Linked DNA regions of Homo sapiens: region 1 is linked to region 2. A link means that fine-mapping ties the variant in region 2 to the expression of a gene that starts in the linked region. Tissue or cell type: testis. Region 2 holds a variant in brackets; the other region holds the start of a gene. All regions are shown on one strand. Distances are from middle to middle.

Evidence for each region. PIP is the estimated chance that this variant, and not a neighbour inherited with it, causes the effect.
Region 1: it holds the start of CPLX1, and the variant in region 2 is fine-mapped to the expression of CPLX1 in testis (GTEx, PIP 0.93).

Annotation. Positions count from the first base shown.
Region 1 is chr4:820,435-829,737 of GRCh38, reverse strand. CPLX1 (complexin 1) reads left to right here and starts at 3,609. Exons shown (of 4, transcript NM_006651.4): 1 at 3,609-3,692; 2 at 5,137-5,246. The coding sequence starts at 5,216. RefSeq lists a silencer at 3,590-3,639.
Region 2 is chr4:734,431-742,430 of GRCh38, reverse strand. It overlaps PCGF3 (polycomb group ring finger 3), which reads right to left. Exons shown (of 11, transcript NM_006315.7): 5 at 7,404-7,500; 6 at 4,910-4,965. It overlaps LOC107986246 (a long non-coding RNA gene), which reads right to left and starts at 3,004. Exons shown (of 2, transcript XR_001741543.2): 1 at 2,487-3,004; 2 at 692-1,724. The variant A/C (reference allele first, on the strand shown) is at 3,904.

The DNA of each region.
Region 1 (9,303 bases), 87 kb before region 2:
TGTTACTTTTGGAATATCAAAATCCAGCAGGAAAATGACAGCGTGGATGGTGTCGGCACTCAGACTGAATCACTCAGCACATGTAACTATTAAGTTTGTGTTTGAAGGTTCTGGGTGGGTGCTGTGGGCCGGATCCACACATGCGGTGTGGCAGAGCGCTGCCCTCCTGCTGGGCCCATGGGGGACATGGCCCCCTGGCCACACCCCACGCCAGGACTGAAGGCCAACCCCAGGAAACCCTGACAGTGCTTCCCAGACCCTTTCCTGGCCCAAGGCAAGGAGGATGCCTGGCACCCAGGAGGGCTATGGGCAGATGGGACCCAGAAGATGGGAGCAGGGTGGCAGTGGAGGCCTTGGCAGGGGCTTCCAGAGAGGCTAGAGCTGGAGGTTGCAGCAGGGCAGCTGCCTCCTTTCCCTGCTGTCTGGAGTGACCCCGCAGGGTCTCAAACCCAGTGCCACATGGTCCTCACACAGTCCTGCTTTGTGCTCCTGGGGTCCCTGGCCTCACTGGGGCTGGGGATGGAGCATCTGAGGAGCAGAGGGCTGGCTGGGCCGGGGGTACCATCCATGTCCAACCGGCTGGCACAGGCCCCACAGCCAGGGCTCGGCCCAGCCAAGCACTCACACTTCTCCAAGCTGACCTCTGGGGGAGCCCTCGTTGGAGCTCCATCCTGCTCCTCCCGGACTTGCTCCACACCCCACCTCCTCCTTCTCCCAACATCCGCCTGGACGGGGTGGCCTCCAACTCTTCCCCGGCCTGCAAAATGTTTTCCCTGCCTGGATCTTCAACCTGGCCTTCAACCTGCTGGCCCCTTTCTCACTCAGCTCCTGCCCCTTTCCAGCCGGCTGGAGGTCTGCGGGGCTTCTTCTCCAGGGCTCAGGGCCTCCTCTGGGCACTCGAAGGGCCAACCGCACCTGCCCTGGTGTGGCCAAGTGGCCCGTGGGGGTTGGCAGAGGCCTTTTGCCGCGTCACCACCTTCTGCCACTGGAACGGAGCCTGGGTGGCTCCTGGCCAGCAGCCTGTGACTCCCATCCCAGCTGGGCAGCCCTGGCCTGGCTCACACACCCTGAGTGGGCACCACCCTGAAGCCCTCCAGCAGATGCCCACTTTCCCTTCCCCTGGCCCAGCTCACACACCCTGAGTGGGCACCACCCTCAACTCCTCCAGCAGATGCCCACTTTCCCTTCCCTAGGCCACTTGTCACTCTGACCTGGGGCTGTCACCAACCTTGTCTATTTCCCCCAAGTTGTGGCTGGGCCCCCCCACCCCCAGGTTAGGGCCTAGACAAGTGTGAGAGCTGAGAAGCAGTCACTGCATGTGTGGCTGGATGTAACAAGTAACAACAGGGACAGGCAGAGACAGAGAGAGACGGACACAGAGAGACAGAGACAGACACAGAGACAGAGAGATACAGCGACAGAGAAAGAAAAGACAGAAAGACAGAGACAGAGATAGAAAGAGACAGAGAGACAAAAAGACACAGAGACAGATACAGTGACAGAGAAAGACAGAGACAGAAAGATAGAGACAGAGAGACGGGCAGAAAGACACAGTGACAGAGAGATACAGCGACGGAGAAAGAGACAGAGAGAGAGGCAGAGGAAGACAGGGCAGAACGTGAGGGCTGGCAGAGGGTCTCTGTCCTCTGTGCCCCAGGCCCCAGCTCCAGGTGTGCTTGGAGCTCAGGCTGGCCTGGGTTGTAGAACGGGGAGGGGTCAGCCTAGGAGTCCAGTGCTTCTGCTCGGAAGAACGGGCACCTCCCTGCACTCCTGTGCAGACTGTCCCAAAGGCACCAGCATATCCCTTGCATGCAGCTTGTGGAGGTGGCAGGGTCAGTCATGAGCCTGGCTCTGGGCTCAGGGGGTCACCCCTGGGGTCCTCTCTGGGGTTACTGTCCGGGTTAGCTGTTGGGTTATCCACCCAGTTAGGGATGGAGAGAGAAAGCACCAGGGCCGAGAAGTGACCTCTTTCTTGGACCCGAACATCTCACCCTTGCTGTCCCCTCCCAGGTCCTGAGGAGACTAGAGGAGCAGATGGAGCAGAGCAGGCTGGGGCTCAGGCCGGGCCCCCAGGCATGTGTCCTGCCTCCTGTCCCTGGGCCCAACGTTCTGAGCCCACTTGGCTCAGATCCCGGGAGAGAGGAAGGGACGGTGCTGGGGGTGCCCATGGCTTCCAGCCAGGGAGGCTGAAGAGACCCCAATCCTAGGGCATGGGTCCCCCTCTGGGAGGTTGCCTGTGAACCCCCAGGCCCACGGGACCCTCATGGCTGTCTCAGGGAGCCCCCATGGGCTTGGCCCTGGTGCCTTCACCCTTCCCTCTCCCCCAGCGCTCCCTTCCTCTGCGAAGGGTCCCCTGCCAAGTCAGCAGAAGAGTGGGGACGGGGGCAGAGGCGCTGGGGCCAAGGCTGGGAGTCCAGGCCTCTGAGTCCTCCTGAGCTCAGGCTAAACACGGGGCACCGGAGGGGATGGGGCTGAGGGCGGGGGAGGGGCCGCATCTTCCCTGCGCCAGGGGAGTCCCCAGGACTCAGCAGGGAGGGGACAGTGACAAGTTAGTGCGGCGGCCACCGGCAGCGGCCCCCCTCCCCCCTCCCCACCCCCACCCCGCCAGGAGCACAGGGCAGCTCTAGGGTCGCGGTGCGCCCCATCCCTCCCGCCGCCTGGCTCCCGACACTGCACAGCGCGAACCGCAGGGCCGACCTTGCGGCGACCCCGCTCTCCCGCAGTGCCGCGTCCGCTGCAGAGGAAATCCCGGGGGCCAGGGGAGGGAGCGGTGGGGTCTCTGGCCTTCGTCCCGGTAAAGGAAACAGCGACTCCGTTACACCGAAAGTGAGCCCGGGCCGGCCTGCGGGTCTCTGGCTGCGAGGGGCTTGCGTGGGTTTTCAGGGGTCTGGGGGCCCCCTTCTCCCGCCCTGCGATACGGGGAGGTCGGGGCAGAGGGGTCGGGGCGGCGGGCGGCGCTCAGGGACACGGTCACCGGAGAATGGGGGCGGCAGCGACTCCCAACCCCTGGCCCCTCCGCTCGGGAGGCAGCGACTTCTCCGCCCGAGGGTTTTGCACCCACCGGCCCCGCGCGGACCCTGTAGGGAGCAGGCCCGCACCGTCGGGCTGGGGGCGGGGGGGCAGAGCCGGGGGCGCCCAGATCAGGGGCGGGCGGGGGTCGCAGGCGCCCGCCGGGGGAAGGTCGAGCCCGGGCCGGGTTGGAGGGAGGCGGGGGCGCGTCACTCGGGTCCACCCCCGCCCCCGCCCCCGGGTCCACCCCCGCCCCCGCCCCGGGTCCACCCCCCGCCCCCGCCCCCGCCCCCCGCCCCCGCCCCCGGGTCCACCCCCGCCCCCGCCCCGGGTCCACCCCCCGCCCCCGCCCCGGGTCCGCCCCCCGCCCCCGCCCCCCGCCCCCGCCCCCGGGTCCACCCCCCGCCCCCGCCCCGGGTCCACCCCCCGCCCCCCGCCCCCGGGTCCGCCTCCGCCCCCGCCCCCGGGTCCACCCCCGCCCCCGCCCGGCGCCCGCGGCCCCGCCCCTCGGCGCTCCCCTCCCCGTGCTCGTCACGCTCGGACGCGGGCGGGGGGCGGGGAGCGCCTGCGAGTGACGCGCCCTCCTCGCGGTGCCCTTCAGCCGCCGCCGCAGCTCACCGGGCGCCACATGGACCCAGCCGGCCCGAGCGCGCCCCGCCGCTGACCGCCCGCGCCCCGGGAAGGTAACCGCGCCCCGAGCGCAGCGCGCGCCCGGCCTCCGCTCCCCGGGTCTCCCCTCCCGGCCCCGGCGTCTCCTCCCCGGCCCCCGCTTCTCCCCGCTTCTCCCGCCGGCCCCGGTTTCTCCTTCCCGGCCCCCCTTCTCCCCGCGGCCCCGGCTTCGCCCAGCTCCTCCCCCCGGCCTCCGCTCCCCGGGTCTCTCCTCCCCGGCTCCGGCTTCTCCCCCCGGCTCCGGCCTCTCCCTCCGGCCCCCGTTTCTCCCCCCGACCCCGGCTTCTCCCCGCAGCCCCCGTTTCTCTCCCGGGCTCCGCGCGCGCGGGGTCCGGGGCGGGCGCTGTCCACTGCCGCGGTGCTGAAGCGGCCCCCGCGGTCCCGGCCCGCGCCCGGCCTCCTCCTCGCTTCTTCCTGTCTCGAGGCTCCCCCTCTCCTCCCTCGCCCTCTTTCTTTCCTCTCCTGGCGCGCTCCCGCCTGAGGGCCGCTCGCCCGCCCGCAAAGCCGAGGGGTGCGGGTGCGGCGGGGCCGGAGCCCTGCGGGTCTGCGGGGCCCGGCCGTGCCCTCCTTCCCCGCGCCGCGGGAGCCAGGGGAGAAGTTTGGAGGAGAATCGGCGCTGCGGCAAAGCCTCCGAGGGGCGCTCCCCGCCCGCCGCCCTCCCAGTCCCCGCGCGAGTCTCCTTCCTCTGCGGAGGGCGAGGGGTGAACCGTCAAACAGTGTCTCTCCAGGGACCTGGGGTTCCCCGATAGGAGAGACCCCGCAAAACCGGGGGGCTCACTGCGGCTGCTGTGATTTCAGAAAGCGGCTTCCCAAGAGGGGACCAGAGCGCCCCACCCCACCCCATGCACGCCCCCGGGGCGGGGGTGCTCTGTCCCCGTCCCCACGTGTTTCCTGAAGGCTGAGCCCCCTGAAGTTTCTCCCCAACCCCGATCTCTTCTACGCGGGCCATGTGGGGGGCACACTGACTGCAGTGCCGTCAGGGATAGGGTCACCCAAGCCTCCCTGGTCAGAAGCCACAGGAGCCCGCCCTGAAGGGTACCCGCTCAAAGACCCACCCCCAACCCTTCTCCACGGCCCTGGGCTCGGGACCACCGCGGAGGCGCCGCTCCAGACACTGAGCTGCAGAGCGGAGCAGTCACCTTCAAACGCCCCCTGGGCCCCGCCCCTGCTTCCGCAGCCTGGCGCCAGGCGCCTCTGAGCGATGCCCCCTAAGCCATCAGCAGCCCTCCCTGCAGAGGCTTCAGACACCCCAGGAGCTGGGGAGACCATTTTCAGGTCCTCTGGGGTCCTGGTTTGGGTGTGGGGACAGAAGCCCCTCACGAAGGACTTCCCAGGCAGCCGCTCCAGGTGGGGGAGGGTCCAGCCCACAAGGTATTGCGGGTAAGGAATGATGGTCTCTGGGGAAGGCCAGGCAGGGGCCTGCTTAGGGTGACCTGTGACCACTTCACTCTCCCCCAGGAAGAACACTCGCTCCCGGCCATACTTGCGTGTGAGTTCTGACCCCTGGAGGAGCCACTGTGGAAGCAGAGCAATCGCCATGGAGTTTGTGATGAAGCAGGCTCTAGGAGGTAGGAAGCGGGAGGTGGGGTGGGGAGGGGCTGAGGGGACATGGAGAGACCACCACAGCAGCTGCTCCTCATCTGGCCCACCGCAGCAGCGCCCCTGCAGCCACACGGCCACCCACGCAGCCCTGCACAGGAGCCTGGGGCAGAGGAGCAAGGACCGTGCCCAGCAGCGCCCCCAGCCCGGCCCTTTTCGAGGCCCCGAGCCAGAACTGGTGTTCCTGGCGGGACAGGGGCTGCCCTGTAAGCTCACTCTGCCCCACTGCTGTGGTCGGGGCAGAGCCCATGGACCATGCTGATGCACGTCCTGGGGGAGGGTGCACACTCTGGCGTAGGCTTTACAGGGCCAATTCTAACTGGCCAGGCTGGGCAGCCCCCAAGGGGGCTTCCTTCCAGATGAGGAGAGCCAAGCGGTGGGAGAGCAGGATGCAGGTGGCAGCCTCAGGGACAGGCGTGGGGACAGAGCTGGCCTGTGCATCTGGCGAGGACCCTGTGGGTTTCACTTGGGTGAGGCAGCGCCATCCTCAGGGACCAGGGCTTGCTGGTTACGGGAGCGAAGGAAAAGGCCCGAAACAGCTTGTGTGTCTCGACTGCCTCCCAGGCGGGACGTGCAGCCTTTTTTGTGTGTACTGGGGTGGGGCCAGGCCCCCTTCCAACCTGCTGTCTGCTATTTGAAAGGAACCTCGTCCCCACTTGACCCAAGGCTGTCATTGTGGCCAGAGACCATGTCAAGAGCAGTGGCTGGGTTCCTAGACCAGGAGGTGGGCAGGGCCTGGGCCATGCTGGTACAGACGTGTCCCGGCAGAGCTGATGGGTCAACTCAGGCCTCGGGGCTGTCGTGGCGAGTCTCAGTTTTGCCCAGAGCCGTCCATCCTGTGTTCCCCCAGCACCAGTGCCCAGAACTCCTGTGAGGGGAACCTGTGGCCGGTGCCCGATTCTACCACTAGAGACGTCTTGCTTGGGTGGCCTCCACGGGGGAGCACCCTCACCTGATGCCATTCACACCTTGGAGTGAGTCAGGCCTCCTGGGAGCATTTCTGCAGTGGGGGAGCTGGCCGGGTTCGAGGGGCCAGGGACAAGGGTGTACAGAGGGCAGGCGCCGCTTCCCCCAGGGCAGGAGCTGCCTGCCTGGCTGTCTCCCGGAGGGTGGCTGTGCTTCCACTCAACACAAATTAAATGAAAAGATATTGAGCCTGTCCTGGGGCCACATCCCTGAGATTTCGTGGTCAAGGGTAAGAGTCAGGTTGAGTCTAATTATAATGGCTGCGTCACCGGGCTGTGATTCAGGGACAAGCCTGCATCTGCGCTGGGAGGGACGCACGTTCCACCCAGGGAGTCCCAGGCTGTTACGGATAATTAATTAGTTGGCTAATTCAGGCCCTGAGGTGGGCTTGTAAGAAACTGAAATATCTTATTTGGCTGTCTACATGACTGAAATTAGCTGGGTAATTACCAGCCTGAATTCCCTTTTTGTTTCATGGCAGCCCAAAGTTTCTCCAGCAGCAGCAACCGGGCAGGCGTCGCTCAGCGTGGTGGAGCTGAGCGGGGGCAGCCAGCAGACCCTGGGGGGGCTCCACGCTGAGTGCTTCCCAGAGCACCCCACATTGGCTTTGCAGAGCACGTTGAGGCTCGGAGCCAGAGCTGCTGAGGGCGGGAGCTGGTGGGGGGCTTCCAGTCGAGACCTTGTTTTCTGCCTCTGCGCCTCTGTCCCTCACCCGGCGAGCCTCATTGTTGCTGTCTCAGGATGCGTGTGAGTGAGACAGAGCAAGACAGAGATGGGAAATGGGGGAACCTCCAGACAGCACGACAGAGCTTGGCAGAGACCCCAAGAGAACTATTGAGAAACAGACCAAGCCCCGGACACAAAGAAGCTGGCAGGAGAGGGAGCAGGAGGCACCCAGGAAGCCGTTCAAAGAAAGGCGAACCCAGAAACAGGGTCGGGGAGGGGGAGCTGGAGAAAGAAAATGACAGCCCAGAAACAGACAGAGAAAAAGACAAGAATGTGTTATTCAGCACGCACAGGGACAGACAGGTGAAAACAGAGACGGCACGTCAGAGACAGAGGCAGAGGGGAGAGAGAGAAAGAGGGAGAGACGGAGACAGAGATAGAGGGAGACACAGAGACAGAGGGAGACAGAGACAGGGAGAAACAGAGACAGGGAGAGATGGGAGCAGAGGGAGAGACAGAGGGATACAGAGAGACAGACAGACAAAGGAAGAGGGCAGAGAGAGGCAGAGGGAGAGGTGGAGGCAGAAGGAGAGAGAGAGACAGAGAGAGTTAGAGAGATAGAGATGGAGACAGAGACAGAGGGAGAGACAGAGATGGGGAGAGACGGAGAATCAGAAACAGAGGGAGAGACAGTGGTGAGAGGGAGAGACAGAGACAGAGGGAGAGACAGAGACAGAGGGAGAGACAGTGGGGAGAGAGACGCATTAGAAATGAACTGCTAAGAGGAGTCAGGGCCAGGAGCGCAGGCAGCATGGCACATGCACACGTGCACGCCCGTCAGAGGGTGCAGCAGAGAGGAGGAAGAGGTGAGGACCTGCCCAGGGCTCTGGGCAGGGGGACAGGCCTGGTTAAATCAAGACCATTCGGGGGCTGTCCGCGGCAGGCTGGGCCGCAGGTGTGAGTCTTGCTGAGGAGTGAGTGGCCCAGGGCCTGCTCATCTGACCCAACGCTGGGTCTCAAGGAGGGGCCCCTGTTGGGGCCACCAAGGGAAGGGAGCATGGTGGCTGCCGGGGTGATCGCTCGTGGGGGAGCGGGAGGCTCCTCTGCAGCAAAAGTGGCCTTGAACTGGGGCCGGGCCTCCCCCCACAACACGTGGGTCCGGATCCAGGGTCCTCAAGGGAGTAATTTAAAGAAACTGGTTTCCTCAGGCCAGAAAGTTGCAAACACGGCCTGGGAGCTCTGTGGACAGCGTGGAGGAACGTGGCACGTGTGGGTGCCGTGGTCACTGCAGACCCTCATGGGGCTAAATGTGGCAGAAGCGAGCAGCCACCCGCTCTCCCATCCTCCGCCTTGATGTGACACACGCCCTGTTTAAACACGCTCAGGTCCTCGGGAATGTGTGGGGCAGGCGGGCCGGGGCTTCAGGTGGGACACGGCTTGGAGGATGCATGTGCGGAGAGGCTGGGGTGCAGAGTGGGAGGCAGCCGGACACTCAGGAGAGCCTCTGACTGCCCCAGCGACAGAGCCCAAGGCAGGACTCACCCATGCTCGGCTCTGCCACGTGTGGGGAGGTCTAGCGGGCAGGTCCAGTGACTCCGGTGGTTCAGTCACGATGGACAGTGTCCGGCAGTGAATGCCCCTCACCCAGCCAGGCCCAACCTGGGGGGCGACAGCCTGGCCTGGGTTCAGTGGAGAAGCTGTCCTTGTCCCCGGAGAGTGGTACGCTGTTGGGTTCTGTGTCCAGTCCTACATGGGGAGGGAAGCAGGTGAACATCTGGGGAGAACACACCGTAGGGGTGCGGTCCTGGGTTTGGCGTGAGGGGGAGGATTGTGGTCATCCAAGCCGGGGTGGACGAGAAGTGTCTCGTGGACGGCCCAGGCAGGAAGTGCAGGGTTCCACCGTGTGGGAGAGCCCCTCCGCGCCCCCGTGGGGCTGGGCTGTGAGTTCTCGGCAGGAACAACCCAAGGGGCTTGTGGGGGCCACCGGTGTCCACCTTGGGGGTTCACGCGAGGCTGGTGAGGGGTGTCCACCTTGGGGGTTCACGTGAGGCTGGTGAGGGGTGTCCACCTTGGGGGTTCACGTGAGGCTGGTGAGGGGTGCAGTTGGGAAAGAATCTCCCTCTGTGAGCAGAGACCACCAGAGCCAGGAGTCCAGGCCAGGGATGCCCTGAGCCACAATGCAGCCAACACCAGCATCTCCCCCAGCCCTCCACGGGGATGGAGGGGGCACCTCCTTCCTCCTTCCCGGCACCAAAGTGGGGCTCAGCACTCACCATCTGGGACCTCAGGCAGGGCCATGGAGGCAACTGGGATCTGGGCAATCCTGCCCTGATTCCCAGTGTCCACCCCTGAGACTTACACCATGGGCAAGGTTGGGTGTCCACCCTGTCCCAG
Region 2 (8,000 bases):
CCAAACTTTTTATCCACGATTTCCTCCCTACATACCATGAGCTCGGCCAGGCCAGGGAAACGCTCTGGGCATACCCCAACCTACACAGCTGCCTCACAAACACCAACCGTGCAGGGACCAATGCCCGCGTGAGGCAACGAGCTTGGACAGAGAGGAGGATGCCCCGTGAGCCTGGGCAGAGAGAGGAGGGGACCCCGAGAGCCTGGGGAGAGAGGAGGGGACCCTGAGAGCCTGGGCAGAGAGAGGAGGGGACCCCGAGAGCCTGGGGAGAGAGAGAGGAGGGGACCCCGAGAGCCTGGGCAGAGAGAGGAGGGGACCCTGAGAGCCAAGGGGATAGGTGGGGCCGGCCGCAGGTGGATGGAGTGCTGGAGCCTCACAAGGGAAATGCTGAAAGATTAGCCTGGAGAATCTGAGAGCAGCTTGAAAGAAAATGTTTCCCTTAAATAATCACATCCCAGCAGCTGGAATGGAGGCCTGCAAGACAGGGGCTGACAGCAGGAGGCTGTTCCCATCAGTCTGCAGAAGAGCCGTGACGGGAACAACAGGCCACATAGGTCCGTGCAAAGGAGAGAGCCCCACGGACACAGTGGAAAGCAACTCAGCTTCAGACCCTGACCCTTGGCTCTAGTTCCCATTTCTTTAATTTTCACCTGTAAGAATAAAGAAGGATTAAAAATAGCAGCACTCAGTGTCAGGTGTATACAGGCACTGAAACATTTATTGGGGCCGGGCGCGGTGGCTCACACCTGTCATCCCAGCACTGTGGGAGGCTGAGGCGGGCGGATCATGAGGTCAGGAGTTCGAGACCAGCCTGGCCAACATGGTGAAACCCCCGTCTCTACTAAAAATACAAAAAATTAGCCAGGCATGGTGGCACCTGCCTGTAATCCCAGCTACTCAGGAGGCTGAGACAGGACAACTGTGTGAACCTGGGAGGCGGAGGTTGCAGTGAGCTGAGATCGTGCCACTGCACTCAGCCTGGGCAACAAGAGCAAAACTCCGTCTCAAAAATGATTGAATAAATAAATAAATAAGAGCTCACTGTCTCTGGACATTGCTCTTGAGCTGCGGCAGTCCAGCCTGATCTGAGGAGCTCACTGTTGGCATAACGCTAACGAATCAGCCAATTGGAAGCTTATTCTGACTACAGCCATATCTTCATTTTCACTTCTGAGAAGAAATTCTGCTGTGATGAGACATTCCATTTTAAATTTTCAGCATTTTGTAAACACTGCTTTCCTGTGAGTAGGGAATATTGCTGGTGTCTAAATACTGCTTTCCTGTGAGTGGGGATATTGCTGGTGTTGAGTCAGTGACTCCATCGTCGGCTGTTTGCTCTCAGCATAGCTACAGTATGACGGATGAGAAAGTCGGTGCTTTGCCATCAACAATGACAGTTCAACAACAAAATAATCCAGAGTTCACTGCGGCTTCGAAGTGCAGCCCTGAAAGTCCCCTTTTCTCCTTTCCTCGTTCTGACGTCGTCATGAAAACGTCCCAATGCAGTGACGATGAGTTCCAGCCACGGTGCAGAGGGCTGCCCAAAGCCACCGGCAGGCAGGCAGCACACTCCTGGCACACACTCAGCTGCACCACGGACGGGCTTACGGGTGAAGGCGACCACAGCTGAGCCAGTGGGGCTGGTTCCAACCAGGCTACGCACCATGAAATTTCAATTCTTAAATTATCACATCATAAAATACGCTGCTTTTGATTTTTTCCAACTATTTAAAAATGTAAAGAAACATTCTTAGCTCATGGGATCCTCCTGCCTCGGCCTCCCACAGTGCTAGGGTTACAGGCATGAGACACTGTGTCCGGCCCCCACGTTTCTAAAGCAAGAGGTGACAGGCATGTTCAGGATCCATGGAAAGAGGACTGGTGAGTGCGTGAGCCCCACAGCCCTCACCAGGAACGGACAGGAGCCTGGCACACCAAAGACCATGACACGCCCACCGAGTGAAAGAGCCCAGAGTGGGCTGAGACTGAGAATGGACACTTTGATAAATGTTTTAAACATGTTGCCTCTACGAAGACAGGTTTCTAAAATAATTTATAAAAACAAAAAGAAACAACAAACCACTAAAAACCTAACCCCACCTCTGATCTAGCAGGGAACTCTCTTCCAGCAAGCCCCCACCATGTGGGGGTGCGGGGACAGCGTTGAGGGCCTGCCCGGAGTCCAGGTGGGAGGGGCAGGACCGTGTTGGCGTCTCCTCCAAAACAGACACCTGGACCCTCAAGGGCTGACACCTCGCCTCACCACTGCATCCTCGCAGCTAACGCGCGTTTCAGGAAGAGGCCTCTGGTCGGAGAAATGAGGTTTGCAATTGTCTGCACCACAGATAAAACTAAACAAATTGCAAGTAGCCTCCATCAAGAAAATAGGTGCACTGCTAATAGTTTTAAAGTTAGAATCCTCCTGCTAAAGAGCCACAAATGACTGAAAGCTTGAGAAACAACAAGAAAAAGAATATTGACTCAACGGAAAATATGGTGGCCAGAGACAGGAGCTGGTCAGGGAGGCGGCTCGGGGCCACCGTGCCCTGGGGGTGTCAATCTGGAGCACTCCGGAACCTCTTGCCTCTCGACTTCTTCAACGTAGAGTGGAGTTGGCAGCGTCCACACCGGACAAGAGCGTGCTGAGGTGGACGAGAACATACAACCTGCTCCAGGCTGGACGCACACTCCAACTAACACGTGGAGACGAGCGATGGAACGGAGGTGGCATGCAGATCTCAGTGCCACCCGGCTCAGCACATGGACGACACCTGCCCTGATGGATGCCCAGAAGCGGGCTTCCCAAAAACACGGGTGGAACGCACCCAGGTCCACTGCCGCAGGACAACCCAGGACAATGGGAAGGCAGAGGCAGGAACCAGAAGGAGGCCCGTGAGTCAGTGGTATTCTCTGGATCCTGATTGGAATAAACAAAAACAGGCTGGGTGTGGGGGCTCACACCTGTAATCCCAGCACTTTGGGAGGCCAAGGCAGGAGGACTGCTTGAGCCCAGGAGTTCAAGACCAGCCTGGGCAACACAGCAAAACCCTATCCCTACAAAAAATTAGCCAGGATGGAGGTGCTTGCCTGTAGTTCCAGCTACCTGGCAGGCTGAGGTGGGAGAATCACTGGAGCCCGGGAGGTTGAGGCTACAGTGAGCTGTGATAGCACCACTGAACTCCAGCCTGGGCAGCAGAGACCAGGTCTCAAAATAAATAAAGAAATAAACAACAACCAAAAAGCACCGCATTTATGAGACAACTAGAAATGTCAGCACTGAGTGGCTATTTGGTATTAAGGAATCTCTACTATTTTCCTAAACATTATCAAGGTATTGTGGTTATGAGCTTTAAGAAGAACCCTTATCTTTTGGGGATACGTACTGCAGCCTTTACAGATCAAAGGCCACGGGGTGAGGCTGAGGGAGCAGCAGGTGCAGCAAGGACGGCCACGCCTAGAAACTGCTGGCGGGGGGTGGTGGTCACAAAACTCGAGGTTCCTGCCCCGATCCCGCCCACTGCTAAGCGTTTGAAACGCTCCAGTGCACACTTTATTTATTTATTTATTTTTTTGAGACGGAGTCTTGCTCTGTCGCCCAGCCTGGAGTGCAGTGGCGCGATCTCAGCTCACTGCAACCTCTGCCTCCCGGGTTCAAGCGATTCTCCTGCCTCAGCCTGCTGAGTAGCTGGGATTACAGGCACCTGACACCACGCCCGACTAATTTTTTTTTTTTTTTTGTATTTTTGGTAGAGACAGGGTTTCACTATGTTGGTCTGGCTGGTCTCAAACTCTTGACCTGATGATCCACCCGCCTCGGCCTCCCAAAGTGCTGGGATTACAGGCGTGAGCCACTGCACCCGGCCACAAACGTTTCTTAAAGTGTCAGCACTGGCGGGGGTCACA[A/C]AACTTGGGGTCCCGCCCCGATCCCGCCCACTGCTACGCGTCTGAAACACTCGGTGCAAACGTTTCTTAAGGTGTCAGCATTTAACTCGAATGTATCCTTTGCCTTTTCTCAGGACTAAAAAACTTTCAGATATTAAAAGACTAATTGTTTCTATCTACGTTTACTCAGGAAATCTAAATTCTTCCTGCATGAATGAACTCTGTGAGTAGGGAAGAAGCCTCTAACAGTATGATTCTCTGGGTCACGCATTAAAGGCGAGATACGGTTTCTACGGATCTGGCATATTCAGCTGTGTTTTGAATTCCAACCCTCTTCTGAGATACAGTGAGAACCAGCCCAAGTGAATTCTCAGCTTCTCTATCTGCCTTTGAAAGGTCTGATGAGCAGAATACCAGGACAGCCCACCTGGCGCTGACCTGGCCCCTCCTTGGCCTCCTTGCCGGTCGCCAGCGGAGGGCCACCACCGTGAGAGTGTCGGGAGCTGGGGAGCTTTCAGCTGAGCGATCCCCAAGCAACCGATTTCCACTTTCAGGGTATTTGTACTACTTGGTATTTCTTTTAATTCTAAATGAAATTTGACTTTATGGTGAAGTTTTTCTAGAAACACCAGCTACCCGCTATGCCAACGTGCTGCTCCTCTGTTGTGGGGAAGCTGGCGCTGTGGGATGAGGGGAGGCAGGCCTGGGACAGGAGGTGGGGCCCAGGAAGAAGGCAGGGTCCTGGGAGGGGCAGGAGCTGCGTTGAGCCCTGGGGGTCCCATGTGCTAAACATGCGATCCATACTTGCTGAATGAATACACATAAGGGGTAAAAAGATGTCTACGCATCTTAGACGAAAGAAGAGACCAGCCAAGGAGATGAAGTTGGGCTGAGAGCAGGGATGAGAAGACGGTGATTCGGCCAAAAGGAAAGGGGCCTCCCATCCGAGAACCAAACTTCCAGGAGAGCAGGGGCTGCAGAGGCCAGGCTGGGACCTCAGGGATCAGCAAGACAGTCAGACACTCACCTTCTTGGAGGCCTGGTACCAATTTGTAAACAATATCTTGCATGGTTCTGTCATGACTGGCAAAAGAACAGAAAGGTGGAGTTAGCTGGAAATGTTAATTCTATAATTCTTGTACACTTTCCATTTAACAATATCAAAGTTCAGAATCACCAGTCTGGAGCTTTGTTGGAATTTTACTTCTAGTTTACACATGAAAAAATGTGTCACCAAAAGCCATGTATGAGCTGAATTAACGCGTCATTTAACTTGGGCTCTGGCTGCTTCAAACATTTCAAATAATGACAGAGAAGGCTCTTCTGGGAACCCGTGCTTCTGTCTGCCGGACACCCCAGATTCCCCACGTCCCGTGCGCTCAGGGGACACCGTCCCTGCAGACACCCCAGGTTCCCCGCGTCCCGTGCGCTCAGGGGACACCGTCCCTGCAGACACCCCAGGTTCCCCGCGTCCCGTGCGCTCAGGGGACACCGTCCCTGCAGACACCCCAGGTTCCCCGCGTCCCGTGCGCTCAGGGGACACCGTCCCTGCAGACACCCCAGGTTCCCCGCGTCCCGTGCGCTCAGGGGACACCGTCCCTGCAGACACCCCAGGTTCCCCGCGTCCCGTGCGCTCAGGGGACACCGTCCCTGCAGACACCCCAGGTTCCCCGCGTCCCGTGCGCTCAGGGGACACCGCCCCTGCAGACACCCCAGGTTCCCCGCGACACTGTCCCTGCAGACACCCCAGGTTTCCCGCGTCCCGTGCGCTCAGGGGACACCGTCCCTGCGGACACCCCGGGTTCCCCGCGTCCCGTGCGCTCAGGGGACACCGTCCCTGCGGACACCCCGGGTTCCCTGCATCCTGTGCGCTCAGGAGACACCGTCCCTGTGGACACCACGGGTTCCCTGCATCCTGTGTGCTCAGGGGACACCGTCCCTGCGGACACCCCAGGTTCCCTGCATCCTGTGCGCTCAGGGGACACCGTCCCTGCGGACACCCCAGGTTCCCTGCATCCTATGCGCTCAGGGGACACCGTCCCTGCGGACACCCCGGGTTCCCTGCATCCTATGCGCTCAGGGGACACTGTCCCTGCCCCTCCCACCAAGTGCTTCCTGGGGTCTCCTGGTCTTTGTGGGATTTCCAATGAACAGAGGCTTTTCTAGAATGTTTCCAAATAATGTAAAGAAAAGTCTGTGAGGGCCGGGTGTGGTGGCTCACACCTGTAATCCTAGCATTTGGGGAGACTGAGGCGGGCAGATGACCTGAGATCAGGAGTTTGAAACCAGCCTGGCCAACATGGTGAAACCCTATCTCTACTAAAAATACAAAAATTAGCTGGGCGTGGTGACATGCGCCTGTAATTCCAGCTACTCGGGAGGCTGAGGCAGGAGAATCACTTGAACCCGGGAGGTGGAGGTTGCGGTGAGCTGAGATGGCGCCATTGCACTCCAGCCTGGCGACAGAGCAAGACTCCATCTCAAGAAAAATAAATAAAATTAAGAAAAATAATAATAATAAAAGGGAAAAACAAACACATCTGCCTTTCCTCCTTCAAAATGTGTCTTCAGAATTATCTCTACTACCCTCATGGTACGGGGAGCATTTCCCTTCCTTTGGAGCAACCCCCCAAATCTGAACGACCTCCCAAATCTGTGTGAGAACCACACGCTCCACCTGGCTGGCCCCTTGGCCTCCTGCTGACGTCCAGGCAAGAGTTGCCTTCTCCAGAAATGGTGGCTGGCCCAGGGGTGAGTCCAGGCTCGCTGTGACCCTGGGCAGAAGAGCACAGCGCAGGGAGAAAGACCTTGGCCATGTGTCAGGGGCAGCAGGGCCAGGGCCCCAGGACCATCTGCTCCATGGCAGAAAGGTGAAAGGGGTATCCAAGGGCCGGCTCACATCAAATTTAACTTCAGCAAATTCTGCGTAAAACTCATGAGATTCAACTTGGTCTTGAGGGCTCTCCAACAATTTAACTTGACTAAGTATTTTTTCTTTCTCTTTGAGACAGAGTCTCGCTCTGTCGCCAGGCTGGAGTGCAACGGCGCAATCTCCGCTTACTGCAACCTCGGCCTCCTGGGTTCAAGTGATTCTCCTGCCTCAGCCTCCTGAGTAGATGGGATTATAGGCATGCACCACCATACCCAGCTAATTTTGTACTTTTAGTAGAGATGGGGTTTCTCCACGTTGGTCAGGCTGGTCTCAAACTCCTGACCTCAGGTGATCTGCCTGTGTCGGCCTCCCAAAGTGCTGGGATTATAGGCATGAGCCCCTGCGCCCGGCCTACCTAAGTATTGATGGAAATGTATGTGCAGGCACAGCCTGGGCAGGCCTGGCAGGATGGCCTGGTGAGCGCTGGACCCAGGTTCTTCGTGTGCAGCTCCTGGGGTGCCCTTGGTCAGGAGAGGCTGCTGCCAAGGCAGGATGGGAGTACAGCGCTAATGGCCTGGGAAGGCCCACACACAGAGACGCCCAGGGGCACTCACCCCACGTACTGTGGCCTGGGAAGGCCCACACTCACCCGATGTACTGCAGGGGGTGGCTCTGGTGGATCACAATCCTGCAGGTGGGGCAGGTGTTGTTCTCCTCCAGGTACTTCACCAGGCAGCTCCTGCAGACTGTCATCAAAGCACAGGTGTGTTAGGAGAGCGTCTAGAGCCAGGGCGCCCACCCCATCGGCGTGCTCCACTGAACACGGGCGTCTCTGAGCTCGTTTCTGTGCAGATGCTCACTGCTGTCCTCCTTGTGGCTCTCAGCTTCTGAAAGGAAACATCTTGCCGTTCTGGTCTCAGGAGCAATGAGAAGGTTTTAATTGCCCCGTCAATGGGCTTCCTCAAAGAGGCAGGGTTAGGAATTAAGTGGGAAAAAAACTTAGAATGGGGAGATGATGCTCAAAGGTGACAGAGCTGTGGGTCATCAGAACATGGGCTAAAACAGATAATTTTACAATACTTTGTCCTAAAAGATGACAGTATCTTCTACGTACAACTAGATAAAATCAAATGAAAATAACCTAACATAAAATATGCTAACCAATATCTAAAAATACGATTAACGTTAAAGTCAAAATTCTATCAAATTGGCAAATATTTTATTTCCTAAAGTGAGAAATACACAA